5 separate regions of the Homo sapiens genome follow, and all the other regions are linked to region 4. Evidence: fine-mapped expression QTL. A gene starts in region 4. Each other region holds a variant in brackets. All regions are shown on one strand. Distances are between the middles of the regions.

Region 1 (4,115 bases), 50 kb before region 4:
TCACACACATGCTCACCTATCCATACACACACTTCCTCACACACCTCACACCAAGTCTCACACACACTTATGCTTACAAACTCATGCTCACACACATGCTAACACTTCACACATGCTAACACCTCACACATTCACACCCACTCACATGCTCACACCTCACACATGCTCACACCTCATACCTCACACACATGCTCACATCTCACACCCACTCACACACACCTGCCCACACATATCTGCACACACACATGCTCACACATATGCTCACACATCACACATACCTGCTCACATACATGCTCACACCTCACAGCTGCTCACTTATCACTCACACGCTCACACCAGCTCTTTCACACCTCATTGACACCTGCTCACTCATATTTCACACCACTTACACTTGCACCTCACACCTGCTCACGCATGCACATACATTCTGCTCATGCATATCCACTTGCATGCTTACACGCCTGTTCACACACAACCACTCAGACACCTACTTGCACACTCAAATGCTCACACACATTCTGCTCTCACATCCACTCACAGCAGCTCACACTCATGCATGCTCACACACACCTGCTCTCACACTCACACATCACACCCATTCTCTTGTTTTTGAGATGGAGTTGCTCTTGTTGCCCAGGCTGGAGTGCAATGGCACGATCTCGGCTCACTGCAACCTCCACCTCCCGGGTTCAAGCAATTCTCCTGTCTCAGCCTTCCAAGTAGCTGGGATTACAGGCGTTCACCACCACGCCTGACTAATTTTTGTATTTTTAGTGGAGACGGGGTTTCGCCATGTTGGCCAGGCTGGTCTCGAACACCTGACCTCAGGTGATCCGCCTGCCTCAGCCTCCCAAAGTGCTGGGATACAGGCGTGAGCCACCACGCCCGGCCCACTCACACCCATTCATGCTCACACACTCATTCACACACCTGCTTTCACACATACACATACCTGTTCACACACATGCACACCTGCTCACACACGCAGGTGCTTAAGCACGTCCTCACCCCCCACACACACCTGCTCACACATGGGAACACACACATGCTTACACATGTTAAAACACATATCCACTCACATACATGCACAGACCTGCTCACATATACACATACATGCTCACACACCCCAGCTCACACCTTCCTGCTCACACACACCTGCTTACATACACCCTCAAACATGTTCACACCCACTCACACATCCACTGACACACACCTATGCCCATTCACACACACTTATATCACACACATCCCTGCTTACATACACATTCACACATATACACTTGCTCACACACCTGCTGTCACACCCCCACTCACACATATCACTCACACATGCCTGCTTACAGCCACTCACATATACCATGCTCACATCCCTGCTCACACAGGCACACCCACACACTGCTGACACCCACTGACATCATACGTGCACAGCTGCTCACACGCACTGAAATACATTCATGTGTTGACAGACACACAAACATGGCCACACCCACTCTCAGCCACACCAGCTCTCACATTCACCTTCTCACACACCCACTCACACAGCCACTCGCACACATGCACCTGCCCGTACCTGTGCACACGCACCCTCTGCACACTTGCTCACACACACCCAGATGTACACACACTCATGGCACAGAGAGACACACACACCTGGCACACTTCATGGAGATGCCCGTATGCACTACACAGCAGATACACACACACAGAGACAGCCACAGACAGCCCCACAAAACACACACACTGGCAAACATGCACACACACACACACGCGACTCGGTGGCGTGGCTGCTGGGTCAGTTGGCCTGGCTGGGTGGGG[G/T]CAGGGCACAGACACGGCCAGGGTCGGGGCCAGGGTGGAGGGCCAGGTGCCCCACCTGTCTCCCCAGGCAGGAGCCCAGGCCCGGGCTCCAGGCCATCCGCCTCGCCGTCAGACACCTCCAGTGGGGGGCTCTGCCGCTCGCCCTCCTCCTCATCTGAGCTGGGCTGGGCTGGGGACAGGGATGGGTACTGGAGGCACATCCGGGGCAGGTAGGAGACCTGGACGGTGGGGGAAGGAGATCAGAGTCAGGAAGGGCCAGCTTACAGCTCAGGGGGGCTGGGAGGGAGGTCAGCTGGGGAGAGAAGGAGTGCAGAGGGCAGGGGACAATGGCAGGCACAGGAGACTGGAGGAAGAAGACCAGGGAAAAGGGGGGCCAGTTGAGGTGCTGCACATAGGGTGCAGGCTGTGGGGCGAGGGGTGCTGACATCCAGCCCACCCAGCCCTCCCAGCTGGGCCTCCTGGTTTAGGACTGTGGGCACCGGGGAAGTGGTGCCTTGTTCTCCTCCCTGCAGCGGTGCTGTGTGGACCCGCATTAGGCTGGGGTCAGAAGAGGGCATGCTAGGGACCGGTGCGTTGGGTCTGGAAGGGGGTTTCATAGGTGGGATGATGAGTGAGTGGAGGGACCCTGGAGGTCAGTAGGGGTGGTAGAGGTCAGCAGAGGTCACTGATCCGGGTTAGGGTCAGTAGGGAGGGTCACTGGGGAGAGGCAGGGTCAGTAGAGGTGTTCAGTGACTTGGTGTGGGATCCATGAGGGCTAGTGAATGGGGGTGGCAGACAGTGAGGCCCAGGAGGGCCCACAACAAGGCGTTGGGATGGGGAGGCTTGGTGAGGGTGCGAGAATTATCTGGGGTCTGTCCATACTCGGGGTGAGATGAGATAAGGGGTGTGGGGTCATGAGGTCACTTGGGGGGTCAGGCGGCAGCCGTTGGAGCTCCAGCCGCCGTTGGCACTGTGGGGCAGGAAGCTGAGTTGGGTAAGAGCCTGTGTCAGCTTCCTGTGAAGCTCCCGGGCCCCACCACAGGCCTGGCAGTCTCCTGGGGGACGGGGCAGGCGGTGGCATGCACCTGGTGGCCAAGACTGGGATGGGGTGGCACCATGGGGGTATCGAGGACGTGCATCTGCTCCAGCTCCATGTGGCGGTAGAGCTGCTGCAGCTGCGGGGGCTGCACGCTCTGGAGCTCCGTGAAGTTGTTCTCGGCGAAGCTCTCGAACTCGCTGTGCACGTGGTGGGGGTGGAAGTCCCAGTAATGGTCTGTGGGGGACAGCCAGGCAGTATGGGGTGAGCTCAGGGTTGGGCAGGGCAGGAAAAGGTTATAGTAACATTAAATAATACTGCCAGGCCATATGGGGCCTAACCATCTCGTTTAACCCTCGCCACCTGCATGGTTACTCTAGGCCTGCATTTTATAGATGAGGACACTGAGGCTTCGAGCGGCTACATAGCATGCCCAAGGTCAAAAGCATCCGGGTCACAGCCAGGACTCAGGGCTGAAGCAAAGCTCGTGTTCTCAGCAATTCCATCCTGATTCCTGTGCAGTCACACAGACCGAGCGTCTAATCCTGGCTCTGCCATTTACTTGCTGTGTGACCTCAGGCACATATGTGGCCTCTCTAACCTCAGTTGAGTTGCCTGTAAAATGGGGATCACAGTTATTGGGAAGATACGAATGAGTACACATTTGTAAAACACCTCGCACCAGAGCCGGCCCTCAGGGAAAGTTGATTCCCCTCCTATCCTGTTAAAACCTCCCAGCCAGGGCCGCGCGCGGTGGCTCACGCCTGTAAACCCAGCATTTTGGGAGGCGGAGGCGGGCGGATCATGAGGTCAGGAGATTGAGACCATCCTGGCCAACGTGGTGAAATCCCATCTCTACTAAAATACAAAATATTAGCTGGGCGTGGTGGTAGGTGCCGTAATCCCAGCTACTCAGGAGGCTGAGGCAGGAGAATCGCTTGAACCCGAGAGGTGGAGGTAGCAGTGAGCCGAGATTGCGCCACTGCACTCCAGCCTGGCGACAGAGTGAGACTCTGCCTCAAAAAAAAAAAAACTCGGCCGGGCGCAGTGGCTCACGCCTGTAATCCCAGCACTTTGGGAGGCCGAGGTGGGTGGATAACGAGGTCAGGAGATCAAGACCATCCTGGCTAACACAGTGAAACCCCGTCTCTAGTAAAATACAAAAAAATTAGCTGGGCGTGGTGGCGGGTGCCTGTAGTCCCAGCTACTCAGGAGGCTGAGGCAGGAGAATGGTGTGAACCCAGGAGGCGGAGGCTGCAGTGAGCCGAGATTGCGCCACTGCACT
Region 2 (4,115 bases), 620 kb after region 4:
TCCAGCTCCCCAGGCCTAGCAAAGGCAGGGATCCTGTCTCATTCAGCTGCATTTCTTGAGCTGTGCTTAGAAGGCCTGCCACACAGTAGGGAATCAGGAACAGTCGCGTTTACAGAGCTCTCGGGTGATAGAAGGGAAAGTAAAGGTATATTAAATTTCTTCTAGGCTTGCTGCCTAATCCCCTAAGGGGCCTTCTCATTTCTTTCAGCAGTGCCATCTGGCAGGCCTGAGAGTATATGGGAATAAGTGGGGTGCTGGATCTTGTGGGCAGGCTATGGGATCTGGGAAAGGGGTTAGCACCTGGGCCTGGAGGGACCTGGAATCTAGGGGGGGCATACATCTAAGCTAAATGTGGCTGTGGCTTGCAAACTCAGAGGCCTTTCGGGCAGCCTGGTGAAATGATAAATGGGCAGTTGCTGTTTATTCTCAGTCCTAGAGATTAAAAAGAGGTGCCCCCATTGGAAACTGGAGGTTACATGTTCTACCCAAAGGGAGCAGCTGCCAGTCGGCTTCTTGCGATGTGAAAGTACAGCCCCAGAAAACCCAGGTTAAGTGATGTCCCCTAATTTTTAAAAGTTGGCAACCAATTCAACTATAAAATCATGCCTGCTGGCCTCTGAGCAGTAGGCAGGGCTGGTGTATGCCGGAGGCCACCAGGGGACATAACACCTGCCATAGGGTCAGAATAGGTGGGTGTTAGTCACCATCCAGATGGTCAGATACCGGAATTGCCACAGAAATGAACATGACATGCAGAGCAGGCAGAGCAGGTGCCAAAAGTTGGTATCAAGGAGGCGAAGGTCAAGTTCTTTGCCCACCAGAAAGCCTTCTGTTCCTTGTCTCCTTCCCTTCCTGCACCTCCAAGGACTCTCCACTGCTCCCTACAGCTTAAGTCCAAATTTCCCTGTCTGGCATTCAAGGTCTTCCATACCTTCCTTACAAGTGCCCTTTAGGCGCTCTAAATGGCGCGTCAGCTCCTATGTGTGGCCTCAGCTTAGCAGTCCAGTGTTCCCTCCCCCTGAATCCCTCCAGACTGCCCAGGCTGCATCTGCCTCAGACAGCCGGGTGTTCCCAAGACATGCTGCACTTTCTTCCCTCTCTGATTTGCTCATGCTGCTCCTCTTCCTGGAATGCTCATCCCCCCAATTATGGAAATCCCACTCCCCACTCATCCTTCAAAAGGCTCTGGACAAAAGGCACATTCTCCCTGAAGTCGGCTACCCTCCCGACTCTGTAAATTTGGAATAAATCACATCTTTCAGCTTCTATAGCACTCACCCTGCATCTCCACCACAGCCCTTATGACATAGCTGTTGAGAAAGGTCTGTCTTCCTTGGTAGATGATGAGGTCATTGTGGAAGGTTCGAGTCTTACTTACTGTGTCCACAGCATTTGGCTCAGGGCAACAGTCAACAGAGGCTTAGTGACTTAGACACTTGATGGTAGAGTATGGAAAACTGATTCTCATGAGGAAGGTGCTTAAGGTCTTTGGTAAGCCTGGGAAAGGGGCAGTTGGCTGGAACAGAGGGTGTGAGAGGAGCAGGTAAAGCTGGATCCAGCTCTCTTTCAGCCCAAGGCAATACCTAAAACCCTATCTCTGACTTGGAAAGGCAGTATCCTGCTGTCTTCCTGCTGTGGCCATGAGCCTCACTGGGGCTTGACTTGAATGTTAGGACTTTTTTTTTTTTTTTGAGACGGAGTTTCGCTCTTATTGCCCAGGCTGGAGTGCAATGGTGCGATCTTGGCTCACCGCAACCTCTGCCTCCCAAGTAGCTGGGATTACAGGCGCCCGCCACCATGCCCAGCTAATTTTTGTATTTTTAGTAGACATAGGGTTTCACTGTGTTAGCCAGGATGGTCTCCATCTCCTGACCTTGTGATCCGCCTGCCTTAGCCTCCCAAAGTGCTGGGATTACAGGTGTGAGCCACCGTGCCTGGCCATGAGTAGGTTCTTTAGTGGTGATTTGTGAGATTTTGGTGCACCCATCACCTGAGCAGTATACACTGAACCCAATTTGTGGCCTTTTATCCCTCACCTGCTTCCCACCCTTTCCCTCTGAGTCCCCGAAGTCCACTGTGTCATTCTTAATGCCTTTGCATGAGAGGGAAGGCTTTTTAAAGGGCCCTTTTCAAGGTTTGAAATAAGGCTCCATGACAATGGCCTGATTTGGATGGGTCTTGGAATACC[CT/C]TTTTTTTTTTTTTTTTTTTTTTTTTGAGACGGCGTCTCGCTTTGTTGCCCAGGCTGGATTGCAGTGGCGCGATCTCAGCTCACTGCAAGCTCTGCCTCCCAGGTTCACGCCATTCTCCTGCCTCAGCCTCCAGGGTAGCTGGGACTGCAAGCACCTGCCACCGCGCCCAGCTAATTTTTTTTTGTATTTTTAATAGAGATGGGGTTTCACCGTGTTAGCCAGGATGGTCTTGATCTCCTGACCTTGTCATCCGCATGCCTCGGCCTCCCAAAGTGCTGGGATTACAGGCATGAGCCACCGCGCCCGGCCCGGAATACCCTTAAAATATAGCCAGAAAGGGCTGAGGATGGGTAAGAACCCAGGATATAGAGTCTTCCCATAAAAGGGAGGGCCATCATGCAAGATGAACAACTTGGTCCTGATATGGATGGGGCTAGAATCTCCGTATTGTTGCTAATAAGGTGGAACTGAATCCCCTCCCTGTTCCCCAACACAATAAAACTTCAGTGTCGTCTGGGTGCAGTGACTCACGCCTGTAATCCCAGCACTTTGGGAGGCTGAGGCAGGTGGATCACCTGAGGTCAGGAGTTCGAGACCAGCCCGGCCAGTGTGATGAAACCCTGTCTCTACTAAAAATACAAAAAATTAGCTGGGCATGGTGGCACATGCCTGTAGTTCCAGCTGCTCAGGAGGCTGAGGCGGGAGAATTGTTTGAACCTGGCAGGTGGAGGTGCAGTGAGCAGAGATCATGCCACTGCACTCTGGCCTGGGCAACAGAGTGAGACTCTGTCTCCAAAAAAAAAAAAAAAAAAAAAAAAAAAAAAATCTTCAGTGCAGGGCCTGTCTGCTCTCCAGGGAAGGCTGCAGTATTGTCAGGTTTGTTTCTTTTTCCCCACAAAACTGCTTCGGAGAGCTCTTAGGTCCCAAGTTTGCCTGCATCCAGGGTCCAGATGCTTCCAGGGTCCAGATGCTTCCAGGGTCCAGGCAGTGAGTGGAAGTGAAGGAGGCTCCTCTAGTGAAAGAAAAAGGCATCCAGTGTTAATAGTATTTCTTCCCAGTTGCATGGGGCTTGCATATTAGAGATAAAGGAAACATCTTAGCTACTACTGAGCCATAAGTGGTCTCACCTTTCTTGAAACATAAGGCCGTCTTGGTTTGTTGTTCTGTTTTGTGCTTTTCACAGAGGCATGGACACTGAAAGACGTTTCTCTGACAGTGGAGATATAGGACTGAAGAGTGACATGGCTTGCAGAGCACTACCTGTCCCCCTAATCCACACTGTCCTCTCTCCTCATGGGCAGCCTGAGAATGTGGACCCAAGGTAGCCCATCATGCAGTTCTTCATGAAATCTGGAAATCTTGGCATTTCATGGGAAATCTCATCACTGCTAAAGTAGGCTTAGATTTGTTTTAAAACCTTGTGTGGGCTGGGTGCAGGGCATTTTACTCTTCTGTGGTAGGAGAGTAGACTGGCCACAGCCCAGCCCAGAATCCTTAACAAAAGGTTAAGCTGCTGGGCGTGGTGGCTCACACCTGTAATCCCAGCACTTTGGGAGGCTGAGGTGGGTGGCTCACCTGAGGTCAGGAGTTTGAGACCAGCCTGGCCAACGTGGTGAAACCCCGTCTCTACTAAAAATACAAAAATTAGCCAGGTGTGGTGGCGGGCACCCATAATCCCAGCTACTTAGGAGGCTGAGGCAGGAGAATTGCTTGAACCCAGGAGGCAGAGGTTGCAGTAAGCAGAGATTGTGCCACTGCACTCCAGCCTGGGCAACAAGAGTGAAACTCCGTCTCAAAAGCAAACAAACAAACAAAAAACCTTGTGTGGGTGAATCAAACACGTCTGCAAGCCTGATTCAGCCTGTAGCCCACCAGTTTGCAGCCTTTGTTTAGATCCGTAGTGGAGAAAGAGGTTAAAGCTACAA
Region 3 (4,115 bases), 26 kb before region 4:
TCTATGTCCATGTGTACACATTATTTAGCTCCTACTTATACATGAGAACAGGCAGTATTTGACTTTCTGTTTCTGCATTGTTTCGCTTATGATAATGGCCTCCAATTCCATCCATGTTGCTGCAAAGACATAATTTCATTCTTTTTTATGGCTGAATAGTATTTCATTATATATATATATATATATAAAAATATAACATTTTATTTATTCACTCATCCGTTGATGGACACTTAGGTTGATTCTGTGTCTTTGCTATTATGAATAGTGCTGTGATAAACATAAAAATGCAGTATCTTTTTGGTATAGTGATTTATTTTCCTTTGGTTAGATACTCAGTGAGATTGCTGGATCAAATGATATTTCTTTTCCTTTCTTCTTTTCTCTCTTTTTCTTTTTCTTTTGAGACTGAGTTTCGCTCTTGTTGCCCAGGCTGGAGTGCAGTGGCACAATCTTGGCTCACTTTGCCTCCCGGGTTCAAATGATTCTCCTGCCTCAGCCTCCTGAGTAGCTGGGATTACAGGCGCCCGCCACCACGCCCAGCTAATTATTGTATTTTTAGTAGAGATGGGGTTTCATCATTGTTGGCCAGGCTAGTCTCAAACTCCTGATCTCATGTGATCCACCTGCCTCGGCCTCCCAAAGTGCTGGGATTACAGACGTGAGCCACCATGCTTGGCCAGTTCTTTTTCTTTTGAGACAGAATGCCACTTTATCACTGAGGCTGGAGTGCAATGGCGTGATCTTGGCCCACTGTAGCCTGGACCTCCTGGGCTCAAGCGATCCTCCCGCCTCAGCCTCTGGAGTAGCTGGTACTATGGATGTGTGCCACCTGTAGTCTCATCTAATTTTCTGTATTTTTTGTAGAGATAGGGTTTCACCATGTTGCCCAGGCTGATCTTGAACTCCTGGGCTCAAGCAATCCACCTGCCTCAGCCTTCCCAAATGTTGGGATTATAGGTGTGAGCCACTGCATCTGGCCAAAAGGTAGTTCTGTTTTTAGTTCTTTGAGAAATCTCCATACTCTTTTCCGTAGAGGTTGTCATTTAATCACTTACTTTTTATTGAGTGTCTTCCATGGTCTGGGCCTAGTAAGGGGGATAGACATGAATGAGGCATACTCGGAGCCTCCAGCAGCTTACAGGCCTGCAGAGGGTCATGTGAGCAGATAGTGGGGCAAGAGAGGAGGTGCCAGGTACACTTGGTCTCAAAGGTGCATTAGGGAACCATTGATTGGGTCAGGGTCCCAGATAGGATGGCTTAGGGAAGCGTGCAGGGGGAAAGCATGTCTGGCTGAGAATCAACTTAAGCAAAGGAAACGAAGAGGAAAACAGGAAGCCACCATCTTTGCAGCTGGAAGCAAAGCAGGACAGGAAAGCAAAGAGCCTTGAGTGCCAAGCCAAGGAGCCTGAGTCGTGTGCAGGGATGGCTGTGGAGTCTTTGCTGGTTGTAAGCAAGGAGTATGGGGGCTGTCCTCCGTGGGTGCAGCCAAGAAACACAGTAGACTGTGTGTTCCCGAGGCCTAAGATTCAAGGGGCTCCAGGAGAAGGAAGATATCCCATTGCCTCAAGTATGGCCAAGCTCAAGGGGCCTGGGTGAGGAACTCCATAAAAGAGATCCAGGGTCAATAACCTCTGGAAATAGGCAGAATGTCCTCTGCCCTCTGGGCAATGCTAGAGTGTCCTCCCAACTCCTCTTTCCACTCCTCCCCCTCCCAAAGTACATCAGAAGCCTCATCCCCTTACATCCCCAGGGACCCGTGGTAATTCAAATTCTTGGGAATAGTAGGACCCAGATTCCAAGAACAGGAACGGTTTGGTAATCCATAACCTCACGGTTAGTAGTTCCTTAAAAAGGAAAAGAAAAAAATTTTTGAGTGCCTGGCACCATTCTGGGTGCTTCCACCCTATGATCTCACATCACCAAGACAGCCATCTGTTGAACTGAGGCCCAAGAGACCAGTGACTGGCCCAGGGTTGCACAGCATGTGTGGGTAGAGAGCTGGGGCATGAACCCTGGCTTCTGGGGCTCTAGGAAGGGCTGGGTCTTCTGGGGAGGGAAGGAAGCTAGAGGAAGAACGGAGAGAGACTGAGAAGCTGAGGCAGGGAGCAGGGAGGAAGGGGAGGGAGGAGAAGAGAGGAAGGGAAAGAGAAGCAAAATAGCAAGATCAAAGGAGGGAGCAGAGAGAAGGGAGAAACAGGACAAGAGGTGAGGAGGCAGCACGAACCTCAGGCGAAAAAGAGGAGAGCAGGGCGAAGG[CAGAT/C]GGAGGAGGAGGAGGACAGAGGAGGGACAACGAGGAGGTTTTGGGGAGACAGGGACAGTGGCTGGCTGGAGGTGATGGGACCCCAGAGGAACACATTCCCAGCTTCTCCCTCCTGCAGCAGAGCAAAAGAGGGGCAGAGAAGGTCCCTGACTTGCAGGAGGTCAGCAGGTGCATCGTGCTGGAATGTGGCTCCATTTCATTCTGGTCAGCAGGAAATTGGTTTGAAACCAAAAATCTTGGACGCTCTAGGGACTGAAAAACAAAAACATCATTTTTAATTATTTTATTTTTTGAATAGATAACATGTGCACATGGTACAAAATTCAAAAGGTACAAAAAAGGTAAACAACTGCCCAGTTCCCCTTCCACAGACTAGCCCACTTGTTACCTGATCTTGTGTTTTGGTCTAGAAATCATCTACACAGCGTGTAGCAGATATATTTTTAAAAATTTTACACAGAGGGGGCCGGGCGTGGTGGCTCACGCCTGTAATCCCAGCATTTTGGGAGGCCAAGGGGGGTGGATCACGAGGTCAGGAGATTGAGACCATCCTGGCTAACACGGTGAAACCCCATCTCTACTAAAAAAAAAATACAAAAAATTAGCCGGGCGTGGTGGCGGGCGCCTGTAGTCCCAGCTACTCGGGAGGCTGAGGCAGGAGAATGGTGTGAACCCGGGAGGCGGAGCTTGCAGTGAGCCGAGATCGTGCCACTGCACTCCAGCCTGGGCGTTAGAGCGAGACTCCGTCTCAAAAAAAAAAAAGGAAAGAAAAAAATTTTTTACACAGAGGGGGGCACATTAAACATATTGTAGTTCCCTTGTTTTTTTTCCCCAATATACATGTCACACCCATGTAGCACTGTCTTGTCCTTCTGAGTTTTTTCCATTTATAGTTTTTGTGGGTACATAGTAGGTGTGTTTATTTATGGGGTACATGAGATATTTTGATACAGGCATAAATTGTGTAATAATCACATCAGTAAATGGGGTATCCACCACCTCAAGCATTTTTCATTTCCTTGTGTTACCAACATTCCAATTATATTCTTTTAGTTATTTTTAAATACACTATAAATTAGTGTTGACTGTAGTGTCTTTTTAATGGCCGTATAGTATTCCACTATTTGGATTTACCAGGATATTTTTAAGTCATGAGAGACATCGTTCATTTAGAAGAGTAAATACAATATTTATGTGCAGTTTAAAGAATAATTATAAAGCAGCCGGGTGCAGTGGCTCATGCCTGTAATGCCATCACTTTGGGAGGCCGAGGCAGGCAGATCACCAAGTCAGGAGATTGAGACCATCCTGGCTAACACGGTGAAACCCCGTCTCTACTAAAAATACAAAAAAAAAAATTAGCCAGGCATGGTGGCACGGTCTGTAGTCCCAACTACTCGGGAGGCTAAGGTAGGAGAATGGTGTGAACCCGGGAGGCAGAGCTTGCAGTGAGCCGAGATCGCGCCACTGCACTCCAGCCTGGGCGACAGAGCAAGACTCCGTCTCCAAAAAAAAAAAAAAAAGATAATTATAAAGCTGACATCTATGTAACCACCATCCAGGTAAAGAAATAAAAAAGTTGCCAGAAAGGCCGGGCGCGGTGGCTCACGCCTGTAATCCCAGCACTTTGGGAGGCTGAGGTGGGCAGATCACGAGGTCAGGCGATCGAGACCATCCTGGCTAACACGGTGAAACCCCATCTGTACTAAAAATACAAAAAAAAATTAGCCGGGCGTGGTGGCGGGTGCCTGTAGTCCCAGCTACTTGGGAGGCTGAGGCAGGAGAATGACGTGAACCTGGGAGGAAGAGATTGCAGTGAGCCGAGATCGCGCCACTGCACTCCAGCCTGGGTGAC
Region 4 (4,115 bases):
CTCAAAAGATCTTCCTTCCTAGGCCTCCCAAAGTGCTGGGATTACAGATGTGAGCCACCGGGCCTTAGGTATCCGATGGGAATTCCAGGCCAGGTGGGAGGAAAGGGTAGTGCATTGGCACCAAGTAACGTTTCTGGCTGGGTCTTGCCCATCCCCTTGTTGGGTGGCCAGGAGCGCTCAGCCTCCAGAGGCAGGAATGCTGACTGTGTTATTGTGAAATCATTTGCATATTGTGAAGTGCTTTGCATAAGATGGAGCGCTTTTGCATACAGGGAGGGGGGCATTTTAGAAGTCCTAGGGCAGGATCCCTGAGTAGCTTTTCTTTGCCAAGAAACTAACCCAGGGATTCCATTTTGGAACTCAGGGAGGGAACAGAACGTCCTGGCAGTTGTATGGGCCCGGTGGGGTGAGATGGACAGAAAGCTTCAGAAGACAAGCTGGGCCACCAGGGAGAAGTTGGCGGTCTAAGGAAGGCCAACAGTGCAACATGAAGTGGGACAGGCACCAGAGGCAGCCCTGAGAGCTGAGTGTGCTCTCAAGAGCCCCAGCAGAGGGGAAAGTGACAGAGTAAATGGTTGGAGCTGCCATGGGAGGCTGATGAGGGTCAGAGACTTAAGAGACCTGTACTCAGTCGCTATCTCTGCCCAAGTGAGTACCCACATGCCCCTTCCTGAATCTTCTCCTGTACTGGCTGATTTCCAGAGAAGAATACAAACTCGAAACGCCAAGCCAGACTCCCACTGCTGTTCAGGACCTAGACGTGAGAAGTGGTATCACATACTCTGGCTTCAGGACACCCAGGTTTGAATCCTGGCTCTGCCATCTGTGCCACTGTGTGACCCTGGGCTAACAGTACCCACCACAATGGGATAATATGAGGATTCAGTGAGATAGTGCGAGTAAAGTGAATAGCACATAGTAGGTGGTCAGTAAATTGCGGTTATAAGAACTGCTATCCAGTGTTTGCTGCCTTAGTCTAACCAAAGAGGTCAGGTCTAGCTTCCTCCAGGTGAGGGAAGCACAGAGCCCTCGCCTCCCAGGTTTGGAGTTCCCATCAGCAGGGTCCAGCCACCATGCATTGGACCCCAAAGGGTTACAAGCCCTGGAGACAGTGGCCTGAGGTTCCCAGTGAAAAACCAAAGCATAAAAATAATTCGATGAGTAAGAATAAAATTCCCTCTTCTGAGGTTCCCGGGGCCAGGCCCCTCCCTGCGGCAGGCACTTCCCCTTTCCCTTGCTCATGGAGGAGCCAGGCCGGGCTGACTCAGAGCAGGAGCGCACAGTAGTCCTCCCAGCCCGACCTGGGCGGCGTGGTCTGGCGGCCGGGCGCGCCCCCGTGCGGCCACGGGCAGACTGCGGCCCTGGACGGGAAGCGGCGGCCAGATCCGCAAGCCCCGCAGCCTGGTCGATCGCGGTCCCCGCAGAGCCGCCGCTTCCGTCCCTGCCCAGCCTGGCTGAGCGCGGTGCGTGTGGCTCTCTCACTTCCGACCGACCCTCCCCTCCGGCCCGCAGCCCTGCCCAAACGGAAGTGCGCCCTCTACCCGGGTCCCCCACCGCCGCGAGGCGGAAGCGCCCTCCCGCCGCCACTCCCCCCGACCCCGCGGCACGCGGCGCCTCGGGTTCCGGACAGGCCCCTTGTGACGTGGCCGCGCGCCGGGGGCGGCCCCGGGCCGGGGGCCGGGCGGCCGGGCGGCCGGGCGGGGCAGAGCCTGGGCGGGGCGCGGCACCGCAGCTGGATGGCTGGGGCCGCCCGGATCGCCGCCGCCGCCGCCGCACGGTGAGTGCCAGCAGGACCCTCGGGGCCCGCGCCCCGGGCGTGATGGACCCGGCCGATCCCTCGCCCCGTCCGACTGGTCCTCATCAGACCTGGGCCGGCTCCCAGGACCCGGGAGTCAGGCTCGCCCGCTTCGGCCTCCTCTCCCCCATCGCTCCGCGCCCCACGCCCCATCCCTCCCTCGCTGTCCTCTCCGCGTCCCACCCGCCTCTCTCTAGCTCTCTCACTCTCTACTTTCCTCTCCCCTTGGACTCTCCGTGTATTCCCTCCCGCTAGCCTGTGGTCCCCTCACCTCTGCGTGACCGCCTCGTCCTGGCCCAGTCTTGCCTGTGGTCCCCAGTGGAGCCCCGCTGGCTTCATCAGTGCCCCTGATTAGTTAAGGCCTGGAGGTCCTAGACATGGGCATCTCTGCCACCACCCAGAGGCAGCTGCTTTCTTCCCCTCCCATCTCCATCAGAAGGTGAGGAAACTGAGGCAGGGACATCACCAGCTCAAGGTCACAGCCAGCCTGAGGCAGAGCAGACCACATTTAAACCTCATGCCCGAGTTTCCAGATGGAACTTCTCGCTTGGTTGACTCACGTCCACATCCTGTGATCGGCCGGCTGGGCACATTCCTGCTGCAGGGAGCCCCAGGCCTTCCCTGGCACAGGCAGGGCCTCTGCGCCTCCTCATGCCGGGTACATCCACCTGCACTTTCAGGCTTATCTCGTCCTCACAGCTGAGGCAGGTGATATTGATCCCTGTCCTGCAGATGAGGGCACTGAGGCTCAGAGGGGGGGCTTCAGAGATTTGCCCAGAGTTAGACAGCTCAAAGTGCAGCATAGAATTCACCGTGGGGGCTCTAAAGCCTGCGCTATACAAGAGAGAGGCATCCCCTGGCTAAAGGCTCCTTCCTCATCAGCCCCATCTCCTGTTGCCCTCAGTGCCCTGGGGACATTGGTCTCATGTCCTAGGAAGAAGCGTGGATGGTCTTGCCCTGGCTCATCTGCTCAGTTTCCCCACGTATGTCTCTCTGAATCCACCCCATCCCCTTAGAAGGGGTGCCTCAGTCTCTGGGGTGTCGCGGGCGGCAGGGCCTCCCCTGGCAGCCAGAGACACCCAGCTGGGCCGGGCCGTGCCGCCGGTGGCTGAGGAGAGCCAGCCAGCGCCTCACCCTGTCATTAGGGAAAGTTTAGCCTCAGGCGGAGGTGCTGACACAGTCTGGAGCTGCTCAGAAGGAAAAAATACGCAGTGCTCAGGAGTAGGGTGTGGAGACACAGGGCCCCATTGCTGTGCACCCAGCATTTGGATGCTCAGACGCTCTGGCAAGGACAGCAGGAGGGTGGATGCCAGGGTCCCTTGCGGGGAGGAGGGAGGCGCCACGTTTCCTAAGCAGGTGTGCGGCCAAGGCTGTAGCTCATATAGGTGGCCTTTTGTGTTTTTCAGTACGTGGCATGCCTGGATGTCCCTGCCCTGGCTGTGGCATGGCGGGCCCAAGGCTCCTCTTCCTCACTGCCCTTGCCCTGGAGCTCTTGGAAAGGGCTGGGGGTTCCCAGCCGGCCCTCCGGAGCCGGGGGACTGCGACGGCCTGTCGCCTGGACAACAAGGAAAGCGAGTCCTGGGGGGCTCTGCTGAGCGGAGAGCGGCTGGACACCTGGATCTGCTCCCTCCTGGGTTCCCTCATGGTGGGGCTCAGTGGGGTCTTCCCGTTGCTTGTCATTCCCCTAGAGATGGGGACCATGCTGCGCTCAGAAGGTAGGTGACTCTCCGGTGGCGCCCAGGGCTGGCCAGGGTGTGGGAAGCATGCTGCTGCTCTTCTTAGGAGACCCCAGGTCACAGAGTGTCTGAGATGGAGGGAGAGGATAGAATAGAACTTCTCCCCTTGGTCCTGTAGGAGCTATCTAGCCAGGGGCGGCTGGCTCTGGCTTCCCCAGGAAGCTATGAGCACCTGGTAGCAGGGCCTGCCCCTGGGGAGGGGGTCTAGGAGATGGGGATGTGGGCACGGGTGGGAGCTTTGTCCTGACTACCCTTTTGTACCATGAGCATGTACTGCCCGTTCACAAATAACATGTTGTAACAAAACACGCAGGAGAGCTCTAGGGAGCTGCTAAGAATGCACGTGCCTATCCCCCACCTAAGAGGGGTGGACCAAGGCCCTGGGAATCTGTTAGAAACGAGCATCCCAGGGGCTGGTGCTGCCAGCTGGATGCTCAGGAACCATTCACTTACCAGATGGTTACCCAGCAGCTCTGTGCCAGGCACTGGGCTGAGGGCGGTGCCACAGCTGTGAATAGAGCCCTGCTTGGGCCATGGTCAGGCCTGTGCTCAACCCTCAGAGCAGCCCTGCGGGGTCAGTGCAG
Region 5 (4,115 bases), 26 kb after region 4:
TCAGATCACGTCACTCCTCTGCTCAAAATCCTCAGCAGGTGCCCGACTCGCCAGAGCAGGAGCCAAAGTCCTTCCCAAGTCCTGCATGTGTTCACACCACACTCTCCTCCTGGCCTCCACTCCTCCTCCTTCCCTCCTGCTCACTTACAGGCCTCCCTGCTGCTCCTGAGCACATCAGGCAAGCTCCTGTCTTAGGATTCTGTTCTCTAGGAGAATGCTCTTTCCAGGAAATCTGCTTAGTTCAATCTCTCACCTCCTTTAAGGTTTCACTCACATGCCACCTTCTCAATGAGGCCCAGCCTGTTTCGTTTTTTTTTTTTCACAGGGTCTCACTCTGGCCCAGGCTGGAGTGCAGTGGTGCCATCTCAGCTCTTTGCAGCCTCTGCCTCCTGGGCTTAAGTGATACTCCCACCTCAGCCTCCCAAGTAGTTGGGATTACAGATGTGCACCACCACATGTGGCTAATTTTTGTATTTTTAGTAGAGACAGGGTTTTGCCGTGTTGCCCAGGCTGGTCTCGAACTCCTGACCTCAAGTGATTTGCCTGCCTCCGCCTCCCAAACTACTGGAGTTACAGGCGTGAGCCACCACACCCAGACAATTAGTGCCTTTATAGGAAGAGGAAGACAGAGGGAGGGAGGGAAAGAGACTAGGGGGTGGGGGGCAGATCACCTGAGGTCAGGTGTTCGAGACCAGCCTGGCCAACATGGCCAAATTCTGTCTCTACTAAAAATACAAAAATTAGCCGGGTGTGGTGACACGTGCCTGTAATCCCAGCATTTTGGGAGGCTGAGGCAGGTGGATTGCTTGAGTCCAGGACTTCATGACCAGCCTGACCAACATGGTGAAACCCTATCTCTACTAAAAATACAAAAATTAGGCAGGCATAGTGGCACATACCTGTAATCCTGGCTACTTGGGAGGCTGAGGCAGTGAGCCAAGACCATGCCACTGCACTCTAGCCTGGGCAACAGAGCGAGACTCTGTCTCAAAAATAAATAAATACATAAAAAGAGAGAGAGAGAGGGCTCAATCTTGCTGTCACCACAGCAGCATGGGGGGAAAGTCTTGTAAGAACACAGAGAGAAGGGCAAGTCAGGAGGAGAGGCTTCTTGAATTTTCTGGCACCTCGATCTTGGATGTCCTGTCTCTAGAACTGTAAGTTTTAGTTGTTTAAGCTTCTCATCCTAAGGTGCCTTGTTATGGCAGCCTGAGCTGCGACATTCACTGTTACTCATTATCAGTGGCTGCTGGGAGCCCATCCAAGCTGGCTCCTGTGGCCTTTGAGTTTTCCTCATTATTCTTTCAACTTCCCTTGCTTTCTGGCACAAAATAGCTCTGGCTCATCTTGTACTCTCTATGACCCAGCCCTGGAATCAGGCCCTTGACCAAAGAGCCTTGGTTCCTTTTTGTGAAACATGGTGTTTCAAAGCCAAGCCCTGGCTGCTGGGTGAGCTCATTGCTGTTGGCATATCACTGCGCCCAGGCTGGTGGACACGCACATTTATAACTATATTTATTTCTAGATCTACCCGTATATTTTGAAATCCATGAGTTCACACTGATTCTTACAATTCTAATTCAGCGCCACAGGGTCCACTCTGGTTCTCTCCCTTTCCATATTTGTAATTCTCTCCATCAATAGTGAGAAAGCGGCCAGGCACGGTGGCTCACACCTGTAATCTCAGCACTTTGGGAGGCTGAGGCAGGCGGATCATGGGGTCAGGAGATCGAGACCATCCTGGCTAACACAGTGAAAACCTGTCTCTACTAAAAATGCAAAAAATTAGCCGGCATGGTGGCACATGCCTGTAGTCCCAGTTACTCAGGAGGCTGAGGCAGGAGAATTGCTTCAACCCAGGAGGCAGAGGTTGCAGTGAGCCAAGATGGAGGCATTGCACTCCAGCTTGGGTGACAAAGCAAGACTCCATCTAAAAAAAAAAAAAAGTGAGAAAGCTGCCTTCCACTGTCCTTAATCTACCTACTTTTTTTTTTTTTTTTTTTGAGATGGAGTCTCACTCTTGTTGCCCAGGCTGGAGTGCAGTGGTGTGCTCTCAGCTCACTGCAACCTCCACCTCCTGGGCTCAAGGGATTCTCCTGCCTCAGCCTCCAAGTAGCTGGGATTACAAGTGTGCACCACCACGCCCAGCTA[AT/A]TTTTTTTTTTTTTTTTTTTTGAGACAGAGTCTTGCTCTGTCACCCAGGCTGGAGTGCAGTGGCAGGATTTCGGCTCACTGCAAGCTCTGCTTCCTTGGTTCACGCCATTCTCCTGCCTCAGCCTCCTGAGTAGCTGGGACTACAGGCGCCTGCCACCACGCCAGGCTAATTTTTTTTTGTATTTTTAGTAGAGATGGGGTTTCACCATGTTGGCCAGGCTGCTTTCGAACTCCTGACCTCAAGTGATCCACTTGCCTCGGCTTCCCAGAGTGCTGGGATTATAGACTGTGAGCCACCGCACCTGACCTACTTACTTGTTTGATCAACCCCCTCTGTGTACCCAGTGTTCCACTGCCACTCCCTTCCACACACAGAACCCTCTTCACTCCATCCTTGACCTAATGCCCCCTGCCAGGATGCCCCAAATCATGTGCATGGCCTATTCGCTCTACTCAAGCTCTGATGCCTCACACAAACCTTCACCAATTTGGATGCCTCCTTACTCTGGTGAGGTCCCAATGGCCCACGCCAGGCTGCCCCTCCTTGGGCTTGGTCTCTGACACTTCAAAACAACCCAACCCCATGTGTGGATTCTGTCCTCTCTCCACACAGGTTCTGACCTCTCACCCCAGGCCTTGCCCTGTGTGGACACTCTTCAGCCTGCTTAGATTCCAGTGCCTCACACCAGGTCACCCCTCCACACAGATGCTTGTCTTGCTCTGTCCCACTTAATGGTTTTAGAACTGGTTTAGGGAAGGGGGTGAACATGAGGAAGAGGGACCAGGCTCTACTCTTTTTTCTTTTTTGAGATGGAGTCTCGCTCTGTTGCCCAGGCTGGAGTGCAATGGCACAATCTCAGCCCACCACAACTGCCACCTCCCAGGATCAAGCGATTCTCCTGCTTCAGCCTCCGGAGGAGCTGGGATTACAGGCGCCCACCACCGCGCCCAGCTAATGTTTGTATTTTTAGTAGAGACGGGGTTTCACCATGTTGGTCAGGCTGGTCTCGAACTCCTGACCTCAGGTGATCCAACCTCCCCTCTGCCTCCCAGAGTGCTGGGATTACAGGTGTGAGCCACTGCGCCAGGCCTCTACTCTTATTTTTTTTTTTTTGAGACAGAGTATTGCTCTGTCCCCCAGGCTGAAGTGCAGTAGTATGATCTTGGCTCACTGCAACCTCTGCCTCCCAGGTTCAAGAGATTCTCCTGCTTCATCCTCCCGAGTAGCTGGGACTACAGGTGTGTGCCACCATGCTGACTAATTTTTGTATTTTTTTTTTTCTAGAGACAGGGTTTTGCCATGTTGTACAGGCTGGTCTTGAACTCCTGGGTTCAAGTGACCCACCCACCTCGGCCTCCCAAAGTGCTGGAATTACAAGCAGGAACCACTGCACACAACCAGGCTCTACTCTTTATTGTTACAAAGAACTTATCACATTATATGAGCCTGCTAGGACTGTCATTAGGCAGGTGAGGCCTTTGGGAGGCAATTAGGTCATGAGGGTGGAGCCCTTATATATGGGATTAGTGCCCTTATTAAGGGACTGTGCCTGGCATGGTTGTTCTCGCCTGTAATCCCAGCACTTTGGGAGGCCAAGACAGGTGGATCTTTTGAGGTCAGGAGTTAGAGACCAGCCTGGCCAACTTGGAGAAACCCTGTCTCTACTAAAAATAGAAAAATTAGCCAGGCATGTTGATGCGTGTCTGTAATCCCAGCTACTCAGGAGGCTGAGGCAGGAGAACTGCTTGAACCCGGGAGGCGGAGGTTGCAGTGAGCTGAGATCTCACCACTGCACTCCAGCCTGGGCGACAGAGTGAGACCCTGTCTCAAAAAGAAAAAAAAAAAAGGAATGCAGAGAACTTCCTTGTCCCTTCCACCATGCAAGAACACAGCAAGAAAACTCAATCTGTGAGCAAGAATGTGCGCCCTCACCAGACACCCAATCTGCAGGTGCCTTGATCT

The links.
Region 1: its variant is fine-mapped to the expression of SLC39A13-AS1 in whole blood (TOPMed, PIP above 0.99).
Region 2: its variant is fine-mapped to the expression of SLC39A13-AS1 in whole blood (INTERVAL, PIP 0.95).
Region 3: its variant is fine-mapped to the expression of SLC39A13-AS1 in whole blood (INTERVAL, PIP above 0.99). The same link has a PIP of 0.9 or more in blood mononuclear cells.
Region 5: its variant is fine-mapped to the expression of SLC39A13-AS1 in whole blood (INTERVAL, PIP above 0.99).

The regions. Positions count from the first base shown.
Region 1 is chr11:47,356,974-47,361,088 of GRCh38, forward strand. It overlaps SPI1 (Spi-1 proto-oncogene), which reads right to left. Exons shown (of 5, transcript NM_003120.3): 3 at 2,880-3,067; 4 at 1,871-2,033. Among named protein-coding and RNA genes, the nearest start is that of MYBPC3, 6.3 kb to the left of the region's middle. The variant G/T (reference allele first, on the strand shown) is at 1,816.
Region 2 is chr11:48,024,808-48,028,922 of GRCh38, forward strand. All of the region lies in intron 1 of PTPRJ (protein tyrosine phosphatase receptor type J), which reads left to right. Among named protein-coding and RNA genes, the nearest start is that of PTPRJ, 46 kb to the left of the region's middle. RefSeq lists an enhancer at 3,773-4,115. The variant CT/C (reference allele first, on the strand shown) is at 2,189.
Region 3 is chr11:47,381,321-47,385,435 of GRCh38, forward strand. It overlaps SLC39A13-AS1 (SLC39A13 antisense RNA 1), which reads right to left. Exons shown (of 4, transcript NR_182308.1): 4 at 295-2,512. Among named protein-coding and RNA genes, the nearest start is that of SPI1, 4.8 kb to the left of the region's middle. The variant CAGAT/C (reference allele first, on the strand shown) is at 2,257.
Region 4 is chr11:47,406,886-47,411,000 of GRCh38, forward strand. It overlaps SLC39A13-AS1 (SLC39A13 antisense RNA 1), which reads right to left and starts at 2,397. Exons shown (of 4, transcript NR_182308.1): 1 at 2,067-2,397. It overlaps SLC39A13 (solute carrier family 39 member 13), which reads left to right and starts at 1,705. Exons shown (of 10, transcript NM_001128225.3): 1 at 1,705-1,777; 2 at 3,202-3,510. The coding sequence starts at 3,210. RefSeq lists enhancers at 987-1,809, 2,098-2,964, 2,965-3,829 and a silencer at 1,218-2,007.
Region 5 is chr11:47,433,266-47,437,380 of GRCh38, forward strand. No RefSeq gene overlaps it. Among named protein-coding and RNA genes, the nearest start is that of PSMC3, 8.9 kb to the left of the region's middle. The variant AT/A (reference allele first, on the strand shown) is at 2,152.